5 separate regions of the Homo sapiens genome follow, and regions 1, 2, 3 and 4 are each linked to region 5. The links come from fine-mapping of genetic effects on gene expression. A gene starts in region 5. Each other region holds a variant in brackets. All regions are shown on one strand. Distances are between the middles of the regions. Region 1 overlaps FOXN3 (forkhead box N3). Region 2 overlaps FOXN3 (forkhead box N3). Region 3 overlaps FOXN3 (forkhead box N3). Region 4 has its middle 8.0 kb from the start of FOXN3-AS2. Region 5 holds the start of FOXN3 (forkhead box N3).

Region 1 (5,888 bases), 52 kb after region 5:
TGTGTTCCCGCTGGAGCACTGGTCTGGCAGCCTCTTACCTGCAGTTTTCCCTGGCACCCCTGTCCTCTCCCTGGCAACCTCGGGCATATCCTCTGGTTCCCGGGTGCTTTGTCCATATCTTACCCAGCGCTGACAAGAACGCTGGAGGAATCGATAACACTGACAATGTTATTTGGTCCCTGCAGCTTCTCACATGTGGGTCGGAGATGGTTTCGGATTTATCTTTGGAGCCGGGTGCCGCCACATCAGGGTGCAGTCGGTGTTAGACACCCTTTGTTGAAAGGGATCTGCTTCATGGTTGGAGTGAGTGCTTGTTCTAGAATTGAGAGGCACTGTAGAGGCAGTGTCTCCTTAAAAGTGGATGTGTTGGTTGGCCGGATGCTGTGGCTAAAAGCCAGGCTCACAACCCAGGAACTCCCAGGAAAGTTCCCTGTTGAAAATTAGGGAAGATGGGTGACTGGTGATCTCGTGGCCAATGGCCACTCCGCAAGAACAAACACCAAACAACCCAGTGTCTGTGTTTCACTGAGAGAGAAGGGCTCATGATTATTTATTAAAATAAAAAAATCATAACTGAAGCTCTCTGGCTTAGTACACACACCCTGTCACTGTTACCTGGCCAGGTACTTTGAACAACTTCCAGTTATGGAAATATGGTGATCAAATTATGTGCCAATTTGATAAGATCACATTGGAACATTTAAAAATAGATGAGTAACTACGGACAACCAGAAGATAAAGTGGCAGTAGGTGGGCCAGTTGTAATCCAACCAAGGGCATCCATGTGTCAGGCCCACGTTACCTTTATTGCCGTCCATAAAACCTGACTCGTTTGTTACTGTGTGCAGCATGGAAATCACCTTAAAGAAAGTGGAGGTACTGGAAGGAGTGCGCGCCCAGTTGCAGCCTGAAGTCAGAGCTGGCTGTCAGCTGCCCCCTCCACTTCATTCAATATGCTTAGAAATTCTTTTACTAGGCCTTGAGCTTTAAAAATGAATATTTATGTATTTAAACACATTATTTATGTAAATGCAATGAGTGGTGAATTTTATTTCCCCTCATCCCTACTAGCACTGTCAGCTTGCCTTTCAAACTTTTTTTTAAAAAAGGCACGAAGAGGGCAATTTAATGTATGTCTTTTACTTTACCATTTATCCTCTTTGTAATTTGCTTATGCAATTTCGACTTTAAGATTGTGGGTGTGATACAAACAACTGTTAGAAAAAAAGAGGAACATGCCCACGTTCCAGACAAGTTTACCACATCATTGTACATTCCTGTTTCCTATCAGGAGACAAAACTTTTCAAATGTGCATGTTTTTTTCTATAATAAAGTTTTTTTTTTTTTCTTTTTTTGAGACGGAGTCTCGCTCTGTCGCCCAGGCTGGAGTGCAGTGGTGCAATCTCGGCTCACTGCAAACTCCGCCTCCCGGGTTCATGCCATTCTCCTGCCTCAGCCTCCCGAGTAGCTGGGACTACAGGCATCCGCCACCACACCAGGCTAATTTTTTTGTATTTTTCAGTAGAGACGGGGTTTCACCATGTTAGCCAGGATGGTCTCAATCTCCTGACCTCGTGATCCACCCGCCTCGGCCTCCCAAAGTGCTGGGATTACAGTCGTGAGCCACTGGGCTCGGCCTATAATAAAGTTATTACAGAATAACTTTATGTTAGTTATTCTAGTTACTTTATGTTTCTCTGTAATAATTATTTAACTTTCATGTTAAATTTTAAAATCTCTCCATGTGTACTTTGTGTGTACGTGAGAGTTTATGGCTTCATGCCACATAATATATTGAGTTCATTTGAGTAATAGTTTGACTCTTTGAAGTGGCATAGCATGGCAGCTATTAGAAGTATATAAAACGATCCGCTTTTTAGCTTCCTGTGTGTTTTGCATGTGTTTGAAGTTTTTTTAAATGCTTCTGTGCCTCTACCCTTTTTAGTCAGCCTATGTCATGCGATGAGGTTTCAGATGGAGAAGAAGAGTTAAACCCTTATTTGCTAAAGGCCCTCCCAAGACAGAGTGGTAAAACTAATTTGGGAGGATCCTAAGATTTAGTTGGATAAAACCGATTTAGCTAGATAGTGATTTTAAAGATGCCACCTCTTTGGCCTTCTGACTTGGAGTATGAGGGGTGTGTTTCTGTTTCCTTTTCTTTATTAGAACTTAGCAGTGTAGAGTTTGACAGTATTTCAAAGTCAATATAATTTGGATGTTTTCATGATCATTTTATGATTGATCGTTGTTAGCGTGCTAGCTCTTGACTGCTTTTGGCACTTGGGAAACAATAGTGTAGAGAGTACAAAAAAATAACTATTTTCAACCCAAACAAATACTGAGTAGATCTGTCAGCCTCGGGAGGTGACACACTGCAGATGTGTGCTTCCTGTAGCCTCCCCCCTGTGAAAATGACATTGACGTGTGGTGGGGAGAAGGAGGAAGAAGCAGGGCTCTCTCAAAATAGTGAGTAACGGAACAGAGATTCCTGCAAAGCGGAAGCTCGGGGAAATTCTGCGTTTCTTTTGTAATTCCC[G/A]CCCCCACACAACTCTGTCACAGCAGGCTTTTCCTAGAGATTAATTTGGTTTTAGGCAAATCATGGGATTATTTTGGTTTTATTTAGGTGTTGATGCAAGCAGATTATTGATTTTTCCTGCGTCCATTCAAACACGCATAAGCACACACACATACCGTCCAGCTTCTCTACTACAGAAGAAGCATTTACAAGAGTCCTTACAATTCTACCCATGGGCCTAAAAGAATTCCTTCTCCACCTGTTCCACATGCGTTCCCTTGCAGATGGAGGGGCGTTCTGAGGTATATGAGGTGGATTTCTGAAAGACCTGTGGGGCATTAAAATCATCACAGAGCTCAGGTGTCTGAATATCACATAAGTGACACACTAATAGTGATTTCCGTCTTTATAGCTTTTAGAACACATCTGTAAAATAATAGCAAGACAGGTGCAAGAGTGGAAGCCTTTTCATATCTGATATTTAGAGGACATGTCGGTGAGTTTGAAATATTCTGTGGCTGGGATTATCAGGGACTCTGTATCCAGCTCCTGATGCCAAGAACCTGGTGCTGTCTGCAGGGCGCCAGAGCCTCTCCTCCCTGCCTGTTGGTGCTGATCCCAGGAACTAGGGCTACACTGAGGCTCATGGGGCCAGGATCTTGAGAAAGAAATGATAACTTCTCTTTTCCATCTTTCCTTCTGAAAAAAAACAAAAACAAAAACAAAAACAAAAACAAAACAAAAAAACAAACAAAAAGAAACTATTAGAGAGCAAGGTTGGACATAAAACTGAAACTTTCTCTCAGTTATTACAGCAATCTTTTTTTTTTCTTTTTTAATCTAAACTGCTGGAGTAATTGTCGATCTTGTTATGGGAATAGACAATAAGGTATCTAGAAAAAAATTCTTTGTAATCAGTTTTGTTCTTTTTGCCTCTCTTCTTCCCTCTTTTATGTACTTGGCTGGTTTTCTTTTTAAATTTTTGAAGTGTAAACATTTCCCCAATGTCGTTAGACTGTAAATGATAGAATTTTAGAAAATGAAGGGCCTTCAGGAATCAGTCACTTGCTAAACATTTTGATATGGAAGAATATATATATATATTATATATATATATATATATATATATATATATATATATATATTTTACAGACAGGGTCTTGCTCAGTTACCCAGGCTGGAGTACAGTGGCTCGATCATAGCTCACTGCAGCCTTGACCTCCTAGGCTCAAGCAGTCCTCCCATCTCAGCCTCCCAAAAGTCCTGTGACCAGGCATGAGCCACTGCACCTGGCCTTCCTTCCTTACATATTTTGAAGCAGAGGCTGTAAGTTCATGGTGAATAACTTGGCTCTGTTCTGTTTGTTCTTCTGCTAGTACCACCTAACTTCTACTGTGACGTCCCTTGACAGAGAGGAGAATTAAGTGGATTAACTGCCTTTCCCATGCTGAGTATGGTGTTAGGTATATTGTATACGTCATCATCCCATTTAAGCCCAAAATGACTTTTGGAGAAGATGGTATTTTTGCCAATATACAGATGAAGAGATTGTGAAGCTAAGAGGACAAGTGGTTTGTCCATCCAGTAACACAGCAAGTTAGCAGTGTAGACAAGAACCATACCACTTGATCCCCTTGTTGGGAGCTACATGTGGGGATTCTTTCCAGAATGTTCTCTGGGAAAGTCCTGGCATTGCCTGTGGCCCCTCATGGGCACATAGTCATGGGTTAGTTTGTAGTATTTGTCTCTCATGATCTTGAAAGAGACACATGACCCTGGGAACTTGGACCCCATGCAGGGGTTTGGTGGGAAGGCCAGAGGAGGTATGGTGACAAGAACCCAGCCTCTAAGAGGCTGGGGATGTGGGGGTGTTACTGTGGGGATAGCCCAGGTGGGAGCTGGAGGGGCTTCCTGAGCAGGGATGTGAGGCCCCAGGAGGAGCTGGTGCACATGTGTGTGCACGCCTGCAGTTTTAACCCCTTCCTCCCCCAGGGCTCATCTCTTTTGTCCTCTGTTGTCTGGCAGCCCATTGGCCAGCTTGTGTAATCCTTTGTAATCACTTCTTGTTTGTGTTCCTCTAGAGGTTCCCCACCTTAAGGAAACGGACCCTGCCTTTGTGTCACAGGGCCCTGCCCAACTCCTGTGCTGTTAGCTCTTTACAAGCGGTGTTCAGGGACCTGCTTCAAAATCAGGCCCAACGATCCACCTTTCGTTAGGCCCACGGAAGTTTGAATGGGTTTGTGACCCACTGAAGTCTGCATTCTGGCCTGGTGGTGGTGGTGGTGGAGGTGGTGGTGGAGATGGTGGTGGTGGTGGTGGTGGTGGTGGTGGTGGTGGTGGTGGTGGAGATGGTGGTGGAGGTGGTGGTGGAGATGGTGGTGGTGGTGGTGGTGGTGGTGGTGGTGGTGGAGATGGTGGTGGAGGTGGTGGTGGAGATGGTGGTGGTGGTGGTGGAGATGGTGGTGGAGGTGGTGGTGGTCGTAGAGATGGTGGTGGTGGTGGTGGTCGTAGAGATGGTGGTGGTGGTGGTGGTGGAGGTGGTGGTGGAGATGGTGGTGGTGGTGGTCGTAGAGATGGTGGTGGTGGTGGTGGAGATGGTGGTGGTGGTGGTGGTGGTGGTGGAGGAGGAGGTGGTGGAGCTGGTGCTGGAGGTGGTGGTGGTGGTGGTGGAGGAGGAGGAGGTGGTGGTGGTGCTGGAGGTGGTGGTGGTGGAGGTGGTGGTGGAGGAGGAGGAGGAGGTGGTGGTGGTGCTGGAGGTGGTGGTGGTAGAGGTGGTGCTGGAGGTGGTGGTGGTGGTGGTGGAGGTGGTGGTGGTGGAGGAGGAGGAGGTGGTGGTGGTGCTGGAGGTGGTGGTGGTGGAGGTGGTGCTGGAGGTGGTGGTGCTGGAGGTGGTAGTGGTGGAGGTGGTGGTGGAGGTGGTGCTGGAGGTGGTGGTGGTGGAGGTGGTGCTGGAGGTGGTAGTGGTGGAGGTGGTGGTGGAGGTGGTGCTGGAGGTGGTAGTGGTGGAGGTGGTGCTGGAGGTGGTAGTGGTGGAGGTGGTGGTGGAGGTGGTGGTGCTGGAGGTGGTAGTGGTGGAGGTGGTGGTGGAGGTGGTGCTGGAGGTGGTAGTGGTGGAGGTGGTGGTGGAGGTGGTGCTGGAGGTGGTAGTGGTGGAGGTGGTGCTGGAGGTGGTGGTGCTGGAGGTGGTAGTGGTGGAGGTGGTGGTGGAGGTGGTGCTGGAGGTGGTGGTGGTGGAGGTAGTGCTGGAGGTGGTAGTGGTGGAGGTGGTGGTGGAGGTGGTGGTGGAGGTGGTGGTGGTGGAGGTGGTGGTGCTGGAGGTGGTGGTGGTGGAGGTGGTGGTGGAGGTGGTGGTGGAGGTGGTGGTGGTGGAGG
Region 2 (5,888 bases), 58 kb after region 5:
TGGTAGGAGGTGGTGGTGGAGGTGGTGGTGGTGGAGGTGGTGCTGGAGGTGGTGGTGGTGGAGGTGGTGCTGGAGGTGGTGGTGGAGGTGGTGCTGGAGGTGGTGGTGGTGGAGGTGGTGCTGGAGGTGGTGGTGGTGGAGGTGGTGCTGGAGGTGGTGGTGGTGGAGGTGGTGGTGGTGGTGGAGGTGGTGCTGGAGGTGGTGGTGGTGGAGGTGGTGGTGGTGGAGGTGGTGGTGGTGGTGCTGGAGGTGGTGGTGGTGGAGGTGGTGCTGGAGGTAGTGCTGGAGGTGGTGGTGGTGGAGGTGGTGCTGGAGGTGGTAGTGGTGGAGGTGGTGGTGGTGGTGGTGCTGGAGGTGGTGGTGGTGGAGGTGGTGCTGGAGGTAGTGCTGGAGGTGGTGGTGGTGGAGGTGGTGGTGGAGGTGGTGGTGGAGGTGGTGGTGGAGGTGGTGCTGGAGGTGGTAGTGGTGGAGGTGGTGCTGGAGGTGGTGGTGGTGGAGGTGGTGGTGGTGGAGGTGGTGCTGGAGGTGGTGGTGGTGGAGGTGGTGGTGGTGGAGGTGGTGGTGGAGGTGGTGGTGGAGGTGGTGGTGGAGGTGGTGCTGGAGGTGGTAGTGGTGGAGGTGGTGGTGGAGGTGGTGCTGGAGGTGGTGGTGGTGGAGGTGGTGGTGGAGGTGGTAGTGGTGGAGGTGGTGGTGGAGGTGGTGCTGGAGGTGGTGGTGGTGGAGGTAGTGCTGGAGGTGGTGGTAGCTGAGGATGAGTTTTGTGGAAACATGGGGGAACCTGCGGCTGTGAGGGTATCAGCTCTTGCCCCAGCCTTCCTTCCTTCCCTCCTTCCCTCCTTCCCTCCCTCTCTCCCTTTCTTCTTCTCTCTCTCTCTCTCCTCACCTCCTTCCGTCACTCCCTCTGTGTCCCTTTTTTTCCTTCTCTCTCTCACCGTTTTTCCCTCCCTTCCTCTTTCCTTCCCCTCTTTCTCCTTCCCTCCCTCTCCCTCTCATCCTTTCCCTCCTCCCTTCCTCCCTCTCTTTTTACCTCTCTCCCTGTCTTCCTGCCTCCCTCCCTCCCTTTCCCTTTCTCCCTCCCTCCCTCCCTCCCTTTCTCTTTCTCCCTCTTTCTTTCCTTCTCTTTCTTCCCCTCTCTCTCTCCATCCCTCTCTCTTCCTCTCTCATCCCTCCCTCTTTCCCTCTCTCCTTCCTCCTTTAGGGGCAGCTGGGCCCTGAGGAGTTGAGCCAGAGCCAGGTCCAGAGGAGGAGGCAGTTTTGGCGGGAGGGGAGGGCATTTTGTGCAGTGGGGGCAGAAACGCAAGGCCAGTGTGCAGGGGCCCCGGGGAATTAACTGGGCACTCATAGTGAAATAAACCTAGGCCGTTTCCAGGAGAAGCCTTCAAGCCTGCCAGATCCTGGGAGACCGTGGCATATGCTGGACAGAATGACAGCTTGATGAGGAGTACCAACTCTAGGCCACCTCTCTATAAAGTTACAAGTATCTTTTGGTGATGAGGAAGTGGACCATATCCGCTCCAGTTCCCACCATGAGCTCAAGGATCCGTGAGAGAACAGTGGCCTCAGAGGCCCAGCTGCCCCAGCCAGGGAGACCCTTCTCTTATCCACCTCTGCCCACTCCAGCTTTATTCTCTAAGTCAGGCTGTTGCCCTGTCCTGCTCCCTTGCAGTATCGGGGTCAGGGCCTCTCCTCCTTAAGGAAGGAGGTGGCAGGTGGTAAGCCCTTTGGGGCAGGACCTCTCTAGGAAGCCCTGGACTGCCATACCGGCCGGAGCATCTCTCAGTGTGCACGAAGACATGACTCAAAGCAAGTAGCTTTCTCAAAGTCCCATGTCCTTCTTGGCACTACTCCAGTGGCTGGCTCTTTGCTTTGTTCTATTTCGATCCTTCCATTTCCACCTCTATCTTAGTGCATCTGAGACAAAACGCTTCTTTTGGACCAAGGAAATTAACATCAGACTATGGAAAACAAATAGTCATGTGCAATTTTTTTAGATGAAATCTGCATGATTTCACAATTTGACAAGTACCTATTCCATCAGGCAGGCACTGAATGGTTTGGAGCTCAGTGTCAAGGAAAGCTGGCTATTTAATATTTTGTTGCCATCATAATAACAAGAGCTGATTTTTTTTTTTTTTAATTTTATTTTGAGATGGAGTCTCGCTCTGTTGCCCAGGCTGGAGTGCAGTGGCGTGATCTCGGCTCACTGCAACCTCCACCTCCTGGGTTCAAGCGATTCTCCTGCCTCAGCCTCCCAAGTAGCTGGGATTATAGGCACCTGTCACCATGCCCAGCTAATTTTTTGTATTTTTAGCAGAGACAGGTTTCACCATGTTGACTAGGCTGGTCTCAAACTCCTCAGGTGATCCTCTGCCTTCCAAAGTGCTGGGATTATAGGTGTGAACCACTGCACCTGGCCCGAGAGCTGATATTTATTGAACTGTTACCATGTGCCAAGCAAGCACAATATTATCTCCTTTAATCCTCACAACAATCTTGTGAAGCAGGTATTATTAATTCACTCCCATTTTATGGATGAAAAATTTGAAGCTCAGAGCAGTTATGTATTTTGCCCAAGTCCACACAGCTGAGAAATTGAAACAAGACTCAGACTCGGGTCTGTCTGACTCCAATGTCCATGTCAGCCAAGTAAGGGCTCCCCTTTGAAAGCACAATAATGTGTTTCTCACTGACCCCACACATGGGTGGTACTGGCCTAGAACAGAAAGCTGGCTGTGTTGAAACTGTGAAGGAGTTGGAGACATGAGGACCCATGTATTCTAATTAATCTGTAATCACACGTTCCCAAAGCATAGAATGATGGGCCTTTGGGATGATTTCATCTCAGCACCTAATTTATAGATGAGGAAACTAAGACCCGGGGTGGGGAGTGAGCTGCATGTATGCCATGATTACTCAAGGCAGTGATGGTAGGTGCAGCCCAACCAGGTATGTGTTCTTATTACGGATGGGGTAACTTACTCTAGTCCGTGTCTGTATCCCCCAATGGGGGTCTTCCTTTTCGACCTTGGAGCACTTGACTTAGGCCATCATCCACACCCCACCCATCCCACAGGACCCAGCCCAAATCCCTTAACCCTGAAAACTCCTTCTCTGGTTTTTAAGTTTCCTAAAACTGGGAGTTGTGAGTCTCAGTCCTGGGTACCAGTATTGGAGCTGTAGGGCAGTGGGCAGTGAACTATGGATAATGTTTTTGCAAATAAGGTCTTACTGAAGCCCAGCCACGTTTATCTGTTTA[C/T]ATTGATGGTTGCTTTTGTGCTATGATGGCAGAGTTGGGTTGTTGCAACAGAGACCATGTGACCTACAGAGACTATAGAATGTACTTTGAGAAGCCGTTGGACCTGGCCATGCATTAGAGGACCTGGTAACAGAAAGAGAAGTTGTTTAAGAAAAGTTTACTAACCCCTATTACAGAGGAACCAGTTGATGTTAAACCTCTAAAGCCAGACAATCTCAGGCCTACCATGACATTTATGAGCTTCTGCTAGAAAGGTTGGGGTCAATGAGGGTATAGCAGAGGGGAGAGAGGTGGCTTATGCAGTCCATTCCTCCAGATACAGTCGCGCGTTGCATAATAGCGAGAATAAGTTTTGAGAAATACGTCGTTAGGCAATTGCATCATCATGAGAACATCACAAAGTATATGTACACAAACCCAGTTAGTATATGTTTATATACATATTTTTTCATATGGAAAATCAAATGATCCCACACCATTACTGAATATCAATTACTTCTCCTACTTGATCTGCATTGCCAGTGTCAACTGCTGTTTATCAGGTTTCTAGCTCTCTCTCTCTCTCTTTTTTTTTTTTGAGATGGAGTTTCACTCTTGTTTCCCAGGCTGGAGTGCAGTGGCACGATCTCGGCTCACCGCAACCTTCGCCTCCCAGGTTGAAGCGATTCTCTTGCCTCAGGCTCCCAAGTAGCTGGGATTACAGGTGCATGCCACCGTGCCCGGCTAATTTTTTGTATTTTTAGTTGAGATGGTGTCTCACCATGTTGGCCAGGCTGGTCTTGAACTCCTGACCTCAGATGATCCACCCGCTTCAGCCTCCTGAAGTGTTGGGATTACAGGCGTGAGCCACCACGCCCTGCTCTATCTCCTTTTTTTAAGAAAGAGACAGGGTCTTGCTCTGTTGCCCAGGTTGGGGTGCAGTGGCACAATCATAGCTCACTGTAACCTCAACTCCTGGGCTCAAGCAGCAGTCTAGCTAATTTTTATTTGTATTTTTTGTAGACATGGGGTCTCACTGTATTGCCCAGGCTGGTCTCAGACTCCCGGACTCATGCTGTCCTTCTGCCTTGGCCTCCTAAAGTGCTGGGATTACAGGTGTGAGCCGCTAACTGGCCTCAGAGTACATTCGGGAGCTGTCCTCCTTTCTCCGTCTCATTGCTGCCCACCTGAACCAACACCCATGGTCATCTTGGTCCTGGACCGTCATATCAGTTCTCTGCAGGTGCTCTTGCCACTTCCAGCCCATTTATTTCTCACACAGCAGCAACTTCCTTTCTTCTAACTCATGGCTTATTCTGTTTCCTTCCTAGCAGGTATTACAGTCTGTCATAATCTTGCTTATTTATTTCTTTACTTACTGTGTTTTTTCCCATCTATAATCCAAGCTTCAGGAGGTCGGTCTCCTTTTTGTATTGTTTTGTATTCACAAGTGGACCCTTCATGGTGCCTGGCATGTAGTAGGCACCACAGGAATGAATGAATGAATGCATGAGCGTATGAATGAAGGAATGAATGAAGGTGGGTAGTGTTAGAAGCACCCTCCAAAATGGTGTGTCAGAAACATCAAAAGCTATTGTTTCAAGATCACCAACACACACCCAGCTCCCCACTCCATTTCGTTTTCAGTTTTTGTCTTGTTTTAATATCTCATCAGCTTTACAGGGTTACAATTGTCTTAAATATTTCTGAAGTGTAAATATCATCTGCATAATAAGGTTGTTATAAAATGTAAACTTTCTGTGTTGTTTTAATTTAATTTAATTTAATTATTATTATTATATATTTTTTTGAGATCGAGTCTCGCTCTGCCGCCCAGGCTGGAGTGCAATGGCACGATTTTGGCTCACTGCAACCTCCGCCTCCAGGGTTCAAGTGATTCTCCCGCCTCAGCCTCCCAAGTAGCTGGGATTACAGGCACCCTCCATCATGCCTGGCTAATTTTTGTATTTTTGTAGAGATGGGGTTTTATCATGTTGGCCAGGCTGGTCTTGAACTCCTGACCTCAGGTGATCTGTCCACCTCGGCCTCCCAAAGTGCTGGGATTACAGGTGTGAGCCACCATGCCTGGCCTGTCTTAATTTTAAAGTCTAAAAATCATACTTTTTTTTTTTTGGTCCTTTTTTCTTTTTTCTTTTTTTTTCTTTTCATACCTGAATGTTCTGCACAAACTGAAATTGTTACAGGCTATCCCTCCCTGGCCAGGGCAGAACAGGCCTGGGCAGAGGTGGTGCCTGCTCCACTTTGACATGGGGCCTGCCTCCTTATCCCCGTTCTTTAGGCACTGCCCCAGAGCCACGTGTAAGTCCCCCACTGTTGCTAATAGGGGGCTTTCTTCCTCACAAGTGGTGAGAAGGGGGAAAAAACACAACCAGACACTACTGTCCTAGATCAGTGGATACCAAACTTTGTTGACCCGGCTTCCCAGTAAGAAGTGTATGTTACTTGGTGATCAGTAAACATGTATATACACAACTATGCAAATACAAATTTCACTATATGTTACTGCAGATATATGGTAGTCCATTCTATTTGGTTCTAGTTTGTTACATTCTGTTCCATTAAAACAGTGCTGCTTATGATCCATTCCGTTCATTTCATGACCCATGAATGTATCTGGCCCACGGTTTGAATA
Region 3 (5,888 bases), 72 kb after region 5:
CTAATTTTTGTATTTTTCGTAGAGATGGGGTTTTACCTTGTTGGCCAGGCTGGTCTCAATCTCTTGAACTCATGATCCGCCCGCCTCGGCCTCCCAAAGTGCTGGGATTACAGGCGTGAGCCACCGCGCCCGGCCCATGCCTCTGTTTTCTAAAGTGCCCTTTTGAATGTATGTTAGGATGTTCTTCCACACCTGCTTTGTTGATACCAAATTTGTGAATTGTTTTTAATCGAAGTGCAGAGCTCAGCGTGGAGTACTTCAAACCAAGTGACTTAAACAACAGAAACTTACTGTCTCAAGGTTCTGGAGGCTGGAAGTCCGAGACCAATGTGTCGGCAGGGTTGGTTCCTTCTGTGGGCTGTGAGGGAGGGTCTGTTCCACCCCTCTCTCCTAGCTTCTGGTGGTTTACTGGCATTTTGCTGGAATGCTTTTGGCCTTCCTTGGCCTGTCGAAACATCACTCTGATTTCTGCCTTCACCTTCACTTGGCATTCGTTTTCTCCATGTGGTGTCTATGTCCAAATTTTCCCTTCTTGTAAGGACACACTGGTCGTATTGGCTTAGAGGCCCATCTTTCTCCCGTAATAATTCATCCTATTTAACTAATTACATTTTCAATGGCCCTGTTCCCAAATAAGGTCATGTTCAGATGTACTGGGGGCTAGATCTTCAATGTAGGAATTTTGGGGAGGCATAAATCACCCCATAGCAACCCTTTTCTTAAGGGAGACATTTTGCTGATGAATATATGGAGAAGCAGAAAGTAAGGAAATATTTAAAGAACAAAATGGTGGGGTGGGGGGCAGGGGTGTCAAAGGGATTCGCCTGAAGTTGCTCCTAGTAGCCAAAGCTGGGACGGTGATGAGCAGCAAAATAAATAACATAGTGTTGGATTATAACTGGAAATATAAAATAAATACCTATGAGTCCAGACTGATAGAAATAAATGATTGAATAAATAAACAAACAAATAAATGAGAGAAGAGACACAATTCCCATTCAGAGGGTTCCAAATGCTTGATGTAGCTCTTTCTCCACTGAAAGAGGTGGGACGGAACTCTCCACTCCTGGAATGGCTGCACTTAATGACCTACTTCTAAAGATGAGAGCATGGAAAAGGTTGGAAAAGGGAGTTTGGAGTGGACAAACCTGGTGAACAGTATGCCACAGGTGATGAAAGTACCATCCTCAGTGATGTGATGTTGATACCGGGTACCTCTCGTAGGACATCATAAATTTGGCACTTCAGCTTTGTGGTCTTTCTCCCCAAACTCATAACCCCTGTCTAGTCATGGGAAAAACATCAAACAATGATTTTGTCCTTCAGCAGGGACATTCTACAAAAATAACTTGATCCTCACTCCTCAAAGCCCCAAGGTCATCAGAAACAGGGAAAGTCTTAGAATCTATTACAGACCAGAGGAGACTAAGAAGACATGATGAGCAAATGTGTCCTATGATGTCCTGGATGGGATCCTGGAACAGAAAAAGGACATTAGGGGAAAATGTGCAAAATATGAATTAACTGTGCAGTTTAGTTAATAGTAATAGTAGTATGCTGCATGTTTATAGCAGCACAATTTGCTGCTGCAAAGATATGGAACCAACCTAAATGCCCATCAACCTATGAGTAGATAAGGAAAATGTGGTATATATACACCATGGAATACTACTCAGCCATAAAAAGGAACAAAATAATGTCTTTTGCAGCAATTTAAATGCAGCTGGAGGCCATTATTCTTTTCTTTTATTTTTTGAGACAGGGTCTCACTCTGTCGCCAGGCTGGAGTGCAGTGCCGCGATCTCGGCTCACTGCGATCTCTGCCGCTCAGGTTCAAGTGATTCTCCTGCTTCAGCCTCCCGAGTAGCTGGGATTACAGGCACCTACCATGAAGCCCTGCTAATTTTTGTGGTTTTTAGTAGAGACGGGGTTTCACCATCTTGGCCAGGCTGGTCTTGAACTCCTGACCTTGTGATCCACCACCTCGGTCTCCCTAAGTGGGATTACAGGCGTGAGCCACTGTGCCCGGCCTGGAGGCCGTTATTCTAAGTGAAGTAACTCAGGAATGGAAAACCAATGGAAAACGTATGTTCTCACTTATAAGTGGGTGCTAAACTGTGAGGAAGGAAAGGCATGAGAATGATATAATGGACTTTGGGGACTCGGAGGGGAGTAGGGGGAAGGTTGGGAGGGGGATTAAGGATAAAAGACTATCTATGGGGTGACAAGTGCACTAAAATCTCCGAAATCACCACTAAAGAATTTATCCATGTAACCCAAAACCATCTGTACCCCAAAAACTATTGAAATAAAAAAATAGTAGTATACCAGTGTTGTGACAAGTGCCTTATTAGTAATATATGGTGTTAACATCAGGGAAAACTAAGTGAGGGGTATGCAGGAGCTTTCTGTGCTATCTTTGTAACTTCTCTTTCCTTTTTTTTTTTTTTAAAGCAGTCTCCAAAATGCAGACTCATTGATCAATTTTAGATATCCCGATTGTTTTTGGTAGAATGAAAAGTAAAATCACTGCAGCACTGAGAGTTGCCTGACCTACTTTAGTGAAGAGCTGATTGTGAAGGGCTCTTGCTTTTGCCTCATTCTCTGGAAGATCTGCTGAGCCACACGAGGGGTCTCTTTGTAGTTTGGATACTACAGTTCTTGGAACGTTAGTTTTGTGAAATGGCACTCCACTGTGCTTTGTAGAGTACCCGTGGCTGAGCTCGGGCTACTCATGCACACCGAGCCACGCCAGCTTGCTTGGGGAATCTACACCTTTGCCAAGGAGACTCTGGCGTGGGGCCTTCGGAATCTAGATCTGGAAAGTGGAAGGAGGGGTGGTGTGTTTGGGTTGCTTGCCCGTA[C/T]CTCTTCGGAAAAGTCCACTGAGCTGTTCTAATCTTTATGTTGCCTGTGCCCCTCCTTCCTAGATACGTCATTTCTCATTAAAGAATATGCGTATTTTAATGTTTCCAGTAGACATTGCCAAATTGCCTTCTGATTTTACACTCGGTTCTAGTCCACATTCCCACCAACTTTTTAGGAAATTTCTATTTTTCTAACCTTTCTCAATGTCTGACAGTTAAATGAAAAGACAGTTCCTCAATGGGTGACCTTGACTTTGTGATTTTGGTACTTATAGTGGGGGTATTTAAACTTCGTAACACTACATTAACACCCTATAAACAGCAGCTCTCCCCATAATAATGTTTATGACAACAGATTGTTTTTAGAGAGTGACATATATATGGGTCTTATGTAATACCTTCTCTGCTATAGGCACCAATCCAAAGTCAGTTTCCAGAAAAACATTTTAATCCTCTCTCACCATGGTTGGAGAACAGGTTTTGCATTTAATCAAACAGTATGGTTTATGGAGAGTTTCCTGGATGATTGGTTTTCAGAGCCAGCGTTGTTTTGTGTTTCCTTGGTAATTCCAAAGAAATCCCAGCATCCTACGTACCTTTGGCCTCCATGATGGATTGACCATGATTGGGTGTTAGATGGTCAGAAACTGAGTGAGATGGTTTTTTTTTTTTTTTCTTTAATGAGCTTTCCCTTTTTTTGCTTTAAAATTTTCAATGTAAAAATAATGACATCATAGTCTATATTTCATGTAAAGTATTGTGGCTTAACATGTACAAAGTTAGAAAAATCCACAAGACTCATTTGCTGATCTAGGTCTAAAGATTTATTTTTTGGATGACTATAAAATTTGCAGAGTTAGAACATTTCAAGAAAGTTTCTCGGCTCGATGCGGTGGCTCACGCCTGTAATCCCAGCACTTTGGGAGGCCAAGGTGGGTGGATCACTTGAGGTCAGGAGTTCAAGACCAGCCTGGCCAACGTGGTGAAACCCCATCTCTACCAAAAAATACAAAAATTAGCTGGGTGTGGTGGCAGGCACCTGCAATCAGCTACTCGGGAGGCTAAGGCAGGAGAATTGCTTGAACCTGGGAGGTGGAGGTTGCAGTGAGCCGAGATTGCACCATTGCACTCCACCCTGGGCAACAGAGTGAGACTGTCTCAAAACAAACAAACCAACCAAAATAAAGTTTCTTTTACTCTCATCTTTTTTTTTTTTTTGGAATAAATTCCAGACATTTAAGCTTCTCCTTTTAGCTGTTTCTGTTTGCTTCCTCAGAGGAATTTAACGAGCCGCAAAAAAGAAAAAAAAAAAAAACCACACACATTAATGGCCTCTCCAAAGATTTTGGCCTTTCTGATATTGAGGTTCTTAATGAAAATGGCAGATTTTAGTGCTGACTCAGCAAGTTCTATTATCCTGCCTGCTGCCCTATTGATGTCCTTTTTTTTTTTTAATTTAAATGTCTTCATAGAGTAATACTGCTAAGGGTATAGAAATTGTACAGAGTGGTCACTGTATATTCAAATTAACAAAGTTATCAGTCATTGTTCACCAGGTAAATAATCTTTGGCTGTCATAGTGAGGCTGGGAATAGTAGATAGGGGAATTGCATTGGGAGGAGGTGGGGAAGGTACTGAGGTGTTTAGGGAACTCATCCTTTTAGACAATTAGAAGATTAGAAAATCCTTAAAATGTTAATCTTGTTAACATAACGGTGTTAATTCCTCCACTCAGAATGCTGAATTTGCACACAGCAAGGAATAGCTTATTCATTGCTTGGATAGGATCCAATAATTTTTTAATTTATAAGACATCTTTCATTCTAGTTATTCAGAGTGTTGTGCGTTTAATAGTTGGCAGAAGCACTGCAAAGCCACAATGAAATCAGTTTTAACTTACATTGAAGGACTTTAATTGTTAGATTGTGGTGTCATTGCAAGTGTTAATTCAGTCAAGCATAAAGAAAGATTGCAAGGATTTCGATTAGTTGCTTCATTATTACAAATATATTTACTTGAAAGCAACATATTTGATGGAAACCCGAAATAGTTTTTTAAATGCCCCTCATATTCAATACACTTATTTGGATAAGTTTAATTTAAAAGCGTGAGGCATTATGCATTTTGAAAGATTATGTTTAAACAGCACTTTTTGCTGGGAGTAATTTTTGAAAGAATATTAAATTTAAAAAAATCAATATGAAGCTTCATGGTGCTAAACAGGTAGGAGAGTGTGGTAAATTAATGCAGTAAAGTAGATGTGGGATTGAATACCGGGGCTTTCAAAGTGGTAGCACTTCCAAATATACATTATATTTTGTTAAAAAATTGGAGGGGATGAAGAATAGGAAAGGCTTAAATTGTAAGGGCACACTCTTTAAAAAACACAGTGCTCATTGACAGTGGGAGCTTTAAAAATCCATTAGTTGGCTATAATTTTATTTTCATATCAAATCATGTTGTCTTTTGACTTCCATTATATTTCCTGAGTTGGTCTCATAGAATAATTTTGTTCTCAGCATTTTGCCTTCGGTATGCTGTTCATTATACGTTTAATTCTGAGTCAATCCTGTGTTGTTTTATTTAAATGGAAAACAGTCCCTGTTATCTTTGAGCACTTTGTATCAGGGGTAGCTCATGAATATTATGCCCAGTCATCCAATTTCATTCTGTTTTCACACTCACTTTGAAAGTTGAATGTTTAAGTAGCTGGGCTGATTATATCTATTTTACTCAGGTACTGAGTCAAACTCGTGACTGAGAGAACCACTCCGAGTTACCTTTTTATCTTCTGACCTCCTGGGGTGCCCTCAGTCCCTGGTTTGTATTTTAATAGCCAAAGCGTTAGAAGTTCTTTAAGTCTACTACAGATAAATTTCCATTGACCTAACTCCTGAGATGATGGATACCAAAGAAACTCTGTGTTTCCAATACCTCATGAGAAGAAAGTTGCAGTGTTGATGGGCCTAGTAGGTGCCTGGAGTCTTTGCAGATTTGCTTGGTGAGTATTTACTTCTCGGGATA
Region 4 (5,888 bases), 150 kb before region 5:
AGAAGCCAGACTGCACACCTGATTAGAATTAGGTTCAAAGTAAGAGTCTGTAGGTTTTGAACAAAAGTTTGAGGGGACAGTCTTTGAGTGCAGTGCTGAGTACAGTGCATGGGCTTTTAGCTACTTAGTGCTCCTTTCTTATTTAAATGTCTAGGTCATTCTGGATAGTTATAGTTAAAATTTCAACAAAGTTTGAAATGTCTAGAAATGGTTACTTTTATTTGCTGACAGTGGTTATGGATTTGTTGTAAAATCCACTTCCTACATGGGGCATCGCTACCATGGTTAGTCTGAAGGCAAAGGTAGACAACTGAACTTGAGGTCCAAAGACCTGGGTTTAGATCAGGGGTGTCCAATCTTTTGGCTTCCCTGAGCCACATTTGAAGAAGAATTGTCTTGAGCTACACATAAAATACACTAACAGTAATGATAGCTAATGAGCTAAAAAAAAAAAACCAAAATTGCAAAAAACTCATAATGTTTCAAGAGAGTTTACAAATGTGTGTTGGGCTGCATTCAAAGCCGTCCTGAGCCGCATGCCATTGGCAGGCCGTGGGTTGGACAAGCTTGGTTTTCCATCCTACTCAGCTATTCCATGGCTTTATGGCCTTAGCAATCCAATCCCTTCATTTTCCCGTTTTTTCATCTGTAAAATGGGAGAGCTTCTTAATGCATCATGAGGTTTGCTGCAAGGGACACCATGTTTTCGGCTCCACCCTTCAACTGCCCTCCACACTGCTTGGGTGGAGCAGCTGTGAGACTGATATGCCAAATTATAGAACTTGAAATGGGCCACAAGCAATGATGTGCAAGATTACTGTGCCTTAAAAATTACCAAGTGTACCGGCTGGATGCGGTGGTTCACGCCTGTAATCCCAGCGCTTTGGGAGGCTGAGGCAGGCGGATCACGAGGTCAGGGGATTGAGACCATCCTGGCTAACATGGTGAAACCTTGTCTCTACTAAAAATACAAAAAATTAGCCGGGCGTGGTGGCATGCACCTGTAGTTCCAGCTACTCGGAGGCTGGGGCAGGAGAATCGCTTGAACCTGGGAGGCGGAGATTGCAGTGAGCCGAGATTGCGCCACTGCACTCCAGCCTGAGCGACAGAGTGAGACTCCGTCTCAAAAAAAAAAAAAAACATACCAAGTGACTCCACGTGTTTCCTGTCTTCCCTGTGGCCAGGTGAGTAAGTAAGCCTTGCCGGAGCTCTGCACTGGACTCAGCTCTTGAGAAAGTTAAATTGAGTTTCCTTTTAGGCCCTTGTTCCTTGTGGATAGCTCCCTGGGTGGTAAGAGGAGTCAGGGTGATGGCCAAGAGCAACACCTGATGGCTCCCCATCAGGTATGATGATGGTGCCCTTTGGCAGGCACGGATCTGAGGCCACAGATGTATAGATGTTGTATAGATGACTCCTCTCACTCTGGTCTGTAAGTCCCTTAAAGGCAGCAACTAGTTTTTCATTTTAACTATTATTCTCCATTGCCTAGAACAATGTCTGGCCTCAACAAATATATGTTGGATTAATTTGTCATGATCAAGATTTTCTGGTGGCATGAAGTTTTCTTTGAGGTTGATTATCTATGTCAGTGGTGTGTCCAGGTAGACCTCCAAAGTAGCCATACATTTTAAGTTGGTTCAGTATACAGTGCTCAGTGTGATCACACAGCCGCCTCATGGAGGAAGCAGCATTTCCTTTAGGAGGTGGAAATAGAAGGCAGGCCACAGCTGCAGCTCAGCAGAGCTGGGCTGAAATCTTACTGGGAGGACTTGTTACAGCCCACTGCTCACCCAAGGTCACTTTCCACTACCTACGTATTAAATACTACTTTCCCTGACTCTTAGATGGGCACCCACCCCCACCCTCCATGCATTTTGCCCTTCTGCTGTCAGTGGGTAGTCTGGGTAGGATAATGGAAATGGCACCTTTCTTTTTCTTTGAGACGGAGTCTCGCTCTGTCCCCCAGGCTAGAGTGCAGTGGTGCGATCTTGGCTCACTGCAAGCTCCACCTCCCAGGTTCACGCCATTCTCCTGCCTCAGCCTCCAGAGTAGCTGGGACTATAGGCACCCGCCACCACGCCCGGCTAATATTTTTGTATTTTTAGTAGAGATGGGGTTTCACCGTGTTAGCCGGGTTGGTCTCGATCTCCTGACCTCGTGATCTGCCCGCCTTGGCCTCCCAAAGTGCTGGGATTACAGGCGTGAGCCACCGTGCCCGGCCAATGGCGCCTTTTAAACATAATCATAACTCAACTTGAAGTTTATCTAAGAAAGGGCCAAACCATCCATGATCCAAACCATGTGTAAATACATTTAGGAGCTTCCTCCTGTCACATAGACTTTTTTTGGGAAATAAATAAGCATTTTATTTATTCATTGTGAAAAATACTGAATTTCTCATTTGTGCCAAACATTATGCTAGTTGTTGGGTTATGGAATAAGAAGACCAGAGGGGGCCCTTGCCAGCAAGGAATTTCTGTATAATTAGCAAGTAAACAGACAAGTGGAACAATTG[C/T]AAATTGTGATAAGAAGCAAGAAAGGACGCAAATGTTAGGGGCCAGCCCTGAGGAGCTGACATTTACAAAGAGTCCTAAAAATCCCGAAGGAGTTCACTGTGCACATGGTGGAAAGGGCTTCCGTGCTGAGGGCAGAGCCTGTGCAAAGACCCTGGGGCTTGTGGAAGGAGCGACTGTGAGGGAGAGTGTGGCATGGATGTGCGGGGAGGTGGTCAGGGGCAGGGAGGAGGTTAGGTTTATTCTAGCTCTCATGGGAAAACATCGGCCAGTTTCAAGCATGAGAGTGGCATGGTCAGGTTTCTATTCAGAGCATCCCTTCTGCTGTTTCATGCAGGATGGTTCATAGGTGGGCAGCAGTGCAGTCACGGAGACCAGGTGAGCGAAGTCCCTGGACTAAAGTGAAGTACAGAAGTGGTGAAGATGTAGAGAACTTTCTAGTGCATTAGAATGGAAGCGGGGAGGGAAACAAAGTCCTCAGATGCTGACATTTAGGAGGTGACAATTACTAAGATGGGAGAAATTTGGGGGGGCAGCGAGAGGATAGGTTTTAGGGGAGGATAGGTTTTGGGGAGAAGTCTCAAGTTCTCTTTGAAATCAACGAGATTTGGCCGGGCGCGATGGCTCATGCCTGTAATCCTAGCACTTTGGGAGGCCGAGGCGGGTGGATCACGAGGTCAGGAGATCAAGACCATCCTGGCTAACACGGTGAAACCCCGTCTCTACTAAATGTACAAAAAATTAGCCAGGCGTAGTGGCGGGCACCTGTAATCCCAGCTACTCTGGAGGCTGAGGTAGGAGAATGGCGTGAACCCGGGAGGCAGAGCTTGCAGTGACCCGAGATCGCGCCACTGCACTCCAGCCTGGGAGACAGAGCGAGACTCTGTCTAAAAAAAAAAAAAAAAAAAATCAACGAGATTTGTTTGGTGGCACAAAACACCTTTGAAGCTAATAGGTAACTGTAACCTTCCTTGTCCTTGCCACTCATTAATTGTATCATGTGCCAATAAATAATCTTCCCTTGGTACCACTTTGTACCTAGTACAGTCTTCCCTTAGTGCCACTTTGTACCTAGTACAGTCTTCCCTTAGTATCGCTCTGTACCTTTTACAGTCTTCCCTTAGTGCCACTTTGTACCTAGTACAGTCTTCCCTTAGTGCCACTTTGTACCTAGTACAGTCTTCCCTTAGTACCACTTTGTACCTAGTACAGTCTTCCCTTAGTATCGCTCTGTACCTTTTACAGTCTTGCCTTAGGACTACTTCATACCTAGGTTTATACCCCATCCTACCCTCAGAAGTGAGCACAATTATCTGCTTGCAGTAGATGCTCAAGAAAGAATTGTTGCTGACTTGTCTGCACCAAACATTTCCAGCTTATTCAGAGCTTGACTCTAAAGCAAGGAAAAAGGAACTGGTTAAAGGGGAAGAGAGGCAGATGAAGGGTTTTGTGGTGGTGATGATGAAACAGGTAATTTTCTAAAAAGAGATTTTAGCTGAATGATGAGGAAAAAATGAAAGAGTAGTTTTAGGGAACGCACCTGGATGTCTGGTCCTTGTGCCACCATTATTAGCCATATACTTGTAGCCTTGGGTCAGTTGGCTAGAGGTCACAGATACACACCTGTCTTTTCTTTCTCTTTCCATTTTTCCTCCTTTTCTCCTCCCCACTCTCTTATTCCCACCTTAGAGGAAAAAAGGCAAGGGAGGAGGAGGAAGAGGGGAGAAGGAGGGGGTAGGGGAAGGAGGGTAAGGAAGAGGAGGGGGGTGAGAGTAAGAGGAGGTGGAGGAGGAGGAGGAGGAAGGGAGTAGGGGATGAGGAGGTGGAGAAGAAGGAAGATGGAGTGAAAGGAGGAGGAGGAGGAGGAGGAGGAGGGAATGGTAAAGCCACAGGCTTCACCCAGGTGTCCTAGGGGTAGGAGAATATGTAGCTGCTATGACACACAAATGTGAATGAGTCTAGAATAATCTCATTTCCCGAAAACCAACACAATGAACATAATTTTCACTTCCCAGTTTTCCATGTCCTGGAAGACTGAAGCCAGTGATGGCAGTACCACTTATTAACCTAAAGTGCATTTCCGTGATATGTCCCATGTCCTGAGCTAGTAATTTTTGACAAAGCACAATAATGAAGCAAGCGTCTTGTGATTTTAAAAGCTAAGCACTTGCTGCATTTTTTTTTAAAAAAATTATTTCTTCCCTGTAGGAAAGTAAAGAAATCCGTGATAAAATAATAATTAAATGCTGACAATGCTAAATTTCTACCCAGCGTGAGCTGGCAGCAGTTTTATACCAAAACATTAGGTCATTTGAAGAAAAAAAAAATCTGATTAAATACCTCTGTAGGCTTTTCTGATTAGCCGTTCTTAAAAGAGTCAGTGACAGTAATGAAAGGGTGTCATTTGACAGCCACAATTTACTTTTGAAAAAAAGGTAAAATAGTACAGTGTGTATGGGTGAGGTTTTTACAGGAATTTCTTGTTGGTCTTTACTCGTGGGATTTGTTTTACTAATTGTCAGTTTCTAGCAGTTCCGAGGAGCCCACCGGCCAGGAATTATGTGAGATGAAAAGTAAGTGATATTCTGGGGCGAGGGTCACAGGGACAGCTTAACTGCCAGGATTTCTTTTCTTTCTTTTACCCCTTCGCTACACAGCAGGTTTTATATTTCCGGGGCGAAATGACCTTGACACTAGCAGGTTAGAGAAATAAAATGTAGTTGCAGAGATTCTCCTTGCATCCCTTGTATTAATTTTCTGCGTTTGGCAGCTCCCAGCATCTCTTTGTGTTAAGTTGCTGTGGCATGAGGGCTGCAGGCCAGATCTGACGTGAAGATGGAATGATTATGTGGCATATGGCAAATGCAACCACCACCACTAATTACTCTTTCTTTCCACTTTCTCCTTGACTTCTACTTGTGGGCATAGGGTTCTGGAGTTTGAAAGTGGTTTCCTTTTTTTCATCTCCCCTTTGGTAGATATGAGACCAAATGCCTATTTTGGCTATGATGTGATAGAATCCTAGAGCTTTAAAGCTAAAAATGGCCTTAGGCCTCGTCCAGCCCAAACACTTCATGTCAAAGATGAGGACGGCGGGCCCAGAGAGCTTCACCTGGGCAGGGATTGCAGAAGGGAGCCTGGAACTCGATCATGTCTCCCAGGTCCTGGGTGAGTCTGTGTTTTTTCTTTTCTGTCCTACCTCTTAAAAGTGGACATGAAGCCAGTGGATTTGTTTCTCTGGGTTGCCATAACAAAAGTGCCACAAACTGGGTGGGAAAGCAACAGAAACTTACTCCCTCACAAGTTCTGGAAGCAAGAAGTCAAAATCAAGGTGTTGGCGGGGCTGTGCAGCCTGAAGGCTCCAGGAGGGGATCT
Region 5 (5,888 bases):
CCTCAAGGGGGGCAAGGTATATCGGGTTTTATACTTAACTATTCCATAAATAGCCATGCTGCTCTAATAACCAATACAGTGTGTGTGTAGGGGGATTAAAGTTCTTGACCAGAGAAACATTTAGCAAAAGAATGCACAAAACATCAAGGGAGGGGCGCTCTTCTCCTTGGAGGAGGAACTGAGGTCCCACGCTGATGGGGGCAGATAAGCCTGGAATTGAGGACTTCCAGCTCCCAGATACTTATGTACTCTCCAGCCCATGCTCAGATGGGGCTGCAGAATGGTCCCATCAAGTCCTCTATCAGGAAATAAGTGTTTCTCAAAGTGATTTCTAGGGCACATATACAATTCGGCTGTTAAATGTGTTTGTAAAACAGTGTAGACAAGACATTAGACAATGCAGCTTGCTTATTTGTGACTTCTCAGGACCTAAGACGCAAGGGTCCTTTCTGAAAGTTCATGGGGAATTGTGAATGGGGTTGTTCCCAAACAAATTTGGCCCCTGCACCCTAGGTCAGGAAGCAAGTCCCAGAGCTGAGGTTCTATGGAATTAGAAGGTGGAAAAGGCCACATTAAGCCCTCCTTTGGCTTTCAGCATTTTTTCCCCCATTTCAGATAGACCGACAGGCAGACATGTGTCCCCTGCTGTCCACATCAGGCAGGGCTGGTCCACCACTTCCTCTTCAGGGTGACACCTTCTCACATCTCTTGCTGCAACTGTAATGGGAGAGAGAAATTAAGAAATATGTTTGAGAATGCAAGAAGCAAAAACACACATGGAATGACATATTCCATGTACAATCACCTTTGGCTCACATCCCCTCTTTTTGAACTCTGAGAAAGCAGGAGGGGACTGGGGCCGGTGAAAATAAGGTGCCACCTCTACTTAATATAAAGAGATTTCTGGCTATTGTGTGAGTGTAGCTGGGGGACTTGGGGGTGGGGTTGGGGGCTGGGGATGGAAGAGGAAGATGTAAGGGGGCGACTTCGTCCTCTCTAGGCCAGCAAGGGCTTGGACAAAGGTCTCTGGCCTTGGTTCCTCTGGCGGAGAATAAGCACCCTCAACTGACGCGCTGATGGAGGGGCAGGACCTGCATTAGCCGGAGCTACAGGAAAGCAGGGTACACATTGTCTCATCCTGGCTTTGTTACCACTTCTAACCCTGAGAATCTCTGGCGTGAGACTTCAAAGATCATCTGACTTGTCTCTGCCACCTTGTGCCTTTTGCTTAGTGACTTTGGGTAGGTCGCATCAAGTGCTCAGTAATCAAAGGGGTGGGGCTGGATGACCTCAGGCTACCCCTGGGCTTCCACCTCCTAATTGTCTCCAGATGGGGAGATGCCACACAACTTGGAAGTAGTAAGGTCTCCGGTGAGTCTGAAAGGCACATCTTTGCTGAAGACTTGTCACCTGCCCTCTTGAACCTTTGTTAGGGGGAATGACTCTCAGATTGGGGGGGGGGGGTCTATTTTTTGAGACAGAAAAAATTTTCAGAAGCCTAACTGGTGTTTCCCTTAGTCCCTCCTTTTGGCTAGGTTTAAAAGTACTGCATGCTAGAAAGCTTTCTCCAGGTCTACTCGCTGTTTTTTTCTGTAGTTTTCAGACCGCTCACGATGTCCTGTCCACTGGCTCAGGAGGGGGTGGCAGGAAGGGTGCCCTGGGCTTCTCCTCTGTAGAGGAACCAACCAATTTGGCTACCTGGGAGTAATGTGCAATCACATTTTTATTTTTGTCACCACCAGGGTGTCCTGTTGGACTCTCTCCTCTCATCCTCTCCCAAGGCGGCTGGTTGGTGTGGCTTTAGCAGTGGGTGCTATTATTTGGAGGTGCCTAGAGACTTAGAGTGGTGGCTGCACCATTTCGCTGGGTGGCTTGCGAATTGTCAGTCTGGTTCCTGAGAGCTCAAACTGAGATGGAAATGAGACCTGTTTTCTCTCTAGGCCGGCCGGGGCGTTCCGCACAACCCACTTGAGAGGCCCCACCGGCGTGGCCTTTAGGACGGTGCCTCTTGTCTTGTAATGGCCACCGGCCCTCCCTCGGGAGACACGCGGCCACCTGGGTGGGACGCTGCGGTGCTTACCTCCGGGACACGAGGTGGTCGCTGGGAGAGGGCTCGGAAGGCCCTGGGGGTCCTATCAGGACGCAGCACTGGGGAGACGTGGAATCTCCTCTTCTCACCCCCACAAGCCTCGCCCGCATCGTAATTCTTTTTATTTTTACTTTCGAGCCATGTAAGGCATGCAGATGGGGTAGGAGCGTTCCCGCGACACGTTGCCAGCAGCGCAGCGCCGGCCCGCTCGTGTGGCCGGAGCCCGGGGAGGGGACAGGGCACGCGCCGCCTGACCCACCTGCCCCACCGCCCACGGTCGCGGCCGCCCTGGGTCGCGGGACCCGCGCCGGTCACCCCCGCCCCGCGGGGCCCAAGAGGCGAGGCCGCGCGGCCCAGCCCCGGCCTCCGCCCTGGCTGAGTGCTGGGGCGCGCGAGGGGCGCGGGCAGGGTCCGCCCCGGCGGGTCAGTGCCCCGCGCCCCAGGCCGCTGGCGGCCAGGCCCACGTTTTCCCTTTCTCCGGCTCCCTCCGCCCTCCGCTCTGTCCCTCCCTCCGCCCTCCTCCCTCCCCGCGCTTCCCCTCCTCCTGCCTGGTCATGTGTCGCCTTTTTTTGTTTGCAGTGGAAACAATTTCTCGCCGCTCGGCGCGCCCCGGCCCGACGCGCCGCGGCGGAGGCGAGCGGGAGGCGGGACGGGGCGGGGAGAGCGGCGGGGCCGGCGGGAGGACGCGCGGCGCGCCCGGCGGACGCCGCAGGTCCCATGCCGCGCCGCGACCCCCGCGCCCCTGCCGCCCGCGCCCGCGGCCGCCCCCCGCCGCCCGCCGCCCCGGGCTCGCCGCGCCGCGCCCGCGCGTCCTTAGCGGGGCCACCGAGCGATGCCCGCCGGGCGCCCGCGAAAGTTTGTCGGCTCCTGCTGAAGGGCAGCGGCGCCCCCGCACCCCCGTGCCCCGCTCCGGCCAGGTGAGTTTGCACCCCGCTCCTGCCGGCTCCCGCGTGGGCTCGGGGGGCACCCGGGGCGGGAGGCGCGTCCGAGACGGTCCTGGAGACTACCTCGCCGCTCTGGGAAGACGAGGGACCCCGCAGGTCCTGGGGGGAGGGTCGGGTGTGGACCCCGGGAGCCCCCGAGCCGGGAAGTTGCCGGGTCCGAAGAGTTTCCTGCCCCGACGTGCGTGCTGCTTCCCGGTGCCTCGGTTTCCGAAAAGACGCCCGCAAGGAACAGAGTTGGTATTGTCTGCGGAGGACGGGGTCCCCGCCGTTCCGGGCCGGGGAGGGGGTTCCGATCAAGTGGAGACCCCAAGATGAGAAACAGGCTCCTAACAAAGATCACCCCCCGGCCAAACTGTGCAGACTTGGCACAGGCAACGAACGTCTCCGGAGACCCCCGAGGCCCGACCCCCCTCATCCCGGCCCTGTTTGAAACCCTCCTTGGGCCCTGGATAAGTTGGGGGACGGCGGGCTTTTATTGATTTGTTTTCGAGGCTCGCCGCGGTGCGGCCAATAAAAGGTTTATGACATCTGACCGGCAGTGAAGGTATGCGAGCTCCCAATTGCCCTGTATATGGGGATAAGAGCAGTTTCCCCCGTTGCCCGGCAACGCCGCTGATTGACGCGGGGTGCAGCCAATCGCCACTCCCGCAGGTCCCCTTGAAATGTTTTTGACAAGTACAGTAGACGAGAGTGAAGCGCGTGCGTGCGCGCGCGCGCGTGCTGGGTGGGCGGGGGTGACCCGGCCCCCCAAACTCGCTACTGCTCGGCTCTGGGAAGATTTCTTAACTTTTTAAAGTTCGCATCGAACATCTGTTCAGAGCTGGGCCAGTAATGTCTTTGTCAGTTATTTGGAGACCTTCTGTTTACTAGGCGAGAAACTAAGCTTTCTTGCCGCATTTTCTCCGTTAAAAAATAAAGAGGGTAACAAAACACAGCAAGTCATAAAAAAAACAAAAGAGGGTGTGTGTGTGTGTGTGTGTGTGTGTGTGTGTGTGTAGAGAAAAGTTGTAAGGAGGTCACCAGTGAATAACTATTTGCGTATCTGGTGGAGCAGCCTTGTTGGCAGCAGATTAAAAATGTTTGCTTAACTGCAACTCACATGATCCAGATTCTTTTTTTTTCCCTCTGAAACAGGAGGAAAAAAAGATTTGGCGAAATCTGTAGTTAGAGTATAATAATGGAAAACTCCTCAGCTGTGGTTTCTGGGAACTGTTTTTTTTTTTTTTTTTTTTTTTTTTTGGTTATTGTTGTTTTGTTTTGTTTTTACATGGAACTGTAGTGATCAGCAGCTCTTCACCCTGTTGGTATAAAATGCGGGATTTATAGGGATGCAGTGAGTGGTTGGAGAGTACGGGGTCCCAGCACAAAACGCACACATGATCCAAGGGTACTGAACTCCCATAACCCTCTCTTCGTGACAATGCCACTTTTTCTCCTAAAACCATATTGCTGGCAGTGTTTGTTTAAAACAAAAGGAAACATGGAGAATAGCGTGTTAGTTCCTCTGGGAAGCTACTGACAAATAAGCAAATTAAAAAGAAAGAGAGCAGCATGTTGTCATAGCAACAGTGCAATTAAATTACTTTACTGTCAGCCATGATATAATTTTCCTGTTTGGAAGCTCAGGAGACATAAAACTTTCATTTAGAGCTAAAGTTGACTTCAGTGGCTGGGTAGTTCTGTTTTATACTCTACTGTGGGCATATGCTGGTCATCAGAAAATTTTCTGATGGGATCTGAGGAAACTTTAAGAAAGACAAGTGGTGCTATAATTCGTTCATAAAGAAGTTAAAAGCAGGATCAGACCAGACTCTGTTGTATCCCCAAGCCAAAAGATGCTAGCTTGTTTTTTGTCTGAAATGTGTCAGGGTAACCTCCTTATTTGACAGAAAGAAATATTCCCTGTGAGTGAACCCAAGACGTCTGGAGCATCCTGCCTGGTCTGTACTGCAATGCCTCATGAAGTTTTCTCTCCTTAAGAGTTGGGCATCTTGGCCAGGCGCGGTGGCTCACGCCTGTAATCCCAGCACTTTGGGAGGCCGAGGCGGGTGGATCACGAGATCAAGAGATTGAGACCATCCTGGCCAACATGGTGAAACCCCGTCTTACTAAAAATACAAAAATTAACCAGTCATGGTGGCACACGCCTGTAGTCCCAGCTACTTGGGAGGCTGAGGCAGGAGAATCTCTTGAACCTGGGAGGCAGGGGTTGCAGTGAGCGGATTTTGCACCACTGCACTCCAGCCTGGGCAACAGAGTGAGACTCTGTCTCAAAAAAAAAAAAAAAAAAAACCGGTTGGGCCTCTCACCACAGCTCCCCCTTAGGCCTTGCGTCTAGCAGGTTCTACCTTTTGGAAGAGGGAAGGTACTATAATTCACAGGCACCCTTGGCTGGTAGGTTAGTGCCCAGGATTATGCCTTCTAGAATTCCCTAATAGAGCTTCCACAGCTGAAGTGGCAGTTGTTTTAGATGTGGTGTTAATGAACATTTAAGAGACATAGAAGGGTCATGTCTTTGCCTTTTTAATTTTATTTATTTATTTTTTTGAGACAGGGTCTCCCTCTGTTGCCCAGGCTGGAGTGCAGTGAGCCTCAACCTCCTGGGCTCAAGTGATCCTCCCACCTCAGCCTCCCAAGTAGCTGGGACTACAGGCACACACCACCACACCTAGCGAATTTTTGTATTTTTTTGGTGGAGATGGCGTTTTACCATGTTGGCCAGGCTGGTCTTGAACTTCTGAGCTCAAGGGATCCTCCTGCCTCAGACTCCCAAAGTGATGGGATTATAAGCATGAGCTACCATGCCTGGCCTATGTCTTTGCTTTTAAATATGTTCATTCATCCCTCCTCCTTCT

What was found. PIP is the estimated chance that this variant, and not a neighbour inherited with it, causes the effect.
Region 1: its variant is fine-mapped to the expression of FOXN3 in whole blood (TOPMed, PIP above 0.99).
Region 2: its variant is fine-mapped to the expression of FOXN3 in whole blood (TOPMed, PIP above 0.99).
Region 3: its variant is fine-mapped to the expression of FOXN3 in whole blood (INTERVAL, PIP 0.97).
Region 4: its variant is fine-mapped to the expression of FOXN3 in whole blood (INTERVAL, PIP 0.92).

Annotation. Positions count from the first base shown.
Region 1 is chr14:89,361,721-89,367,608 of GRCh38, reverse strand. All of the region lies in intron 2 of FOXN3 (forkhead box N3), which reads left to right. FOXN3-AS3 (FOXN3 antisense RNA 3) reads right to left here. Exons shown (of 2, transcript NR_188029.1): 2 at 2,601-3,215. Among named protein-coding and RNA genes, the nearest start is that of FOXN3-AS3, 14 kb to the right of the region's middle. RefSeq lists an enhancer at 2,095-2,144. The variant G/A (reference allele first, on the strand shown) is at 2,538.
Region 2 is chr14:89,355,554-89,361,441 of GRCh38, reverse strand. The region is part of intron 2 of FOXN3 (forkhead box N3); the gene reads left to right. All of the region lies in intron 1 of FOXN3-AS3 (FOXN3 antisense RNA 3), which reads right to left. Among named protein-coding and RNA genes, the nearest start is that of FOXN3-AS3, 8.2 kb to the right of the region's middle. The variant C/T (reference allele first, on the strand shown) is at 3,257.
Region 3 is chr14:89,341,919-89,347,806 of GRCh38, reverse strand. The region is part of intron 3 of FOXN3 (forkhead box N3); the gene reads left to right. Among named protein-coding and RNA genes, the nearest start is that of FOXN3-AS3, 5.4 kb to the left of the region's middle. The variant C/T (reference allele first, on the strand shown) is at 2,865.
Region 4 is chr14:89,565,256-89,571,143 of GRCh38, reverse strand. It overlaps a transcript of FOXN3 not described here. Among named protein-coding and RNA genes, the nearest start is that of FOXN3-AS2, 8.0 kb to the left of the region's middle. The variant C/T (reference allele first, on the strand shown) is at 2,516.
Region 5 is chr14:89,413,989-89,419,876 of GRCh38, reverse strand. FOXN3 (forkhead box N3) reads left to right here and starts at 2,644. Exons shown (of 6, transcript NM_005197.4): 1 at 2,644-3,006. It overlaps FOXN3-AS1 (FOXN3 antisense RNA 1), which reads right to left and starts at 2,523. Exons shown (of 2, transcript NR_036500.1): 1 at 2,081-2,523; 2 at 84-717. RefSeq lists silencers at 2,263-2,552, 2,593-2,802 and enhancers at 2,498-2,792, 2,417-2,949, 2,950-3,483, 3,498-3,792.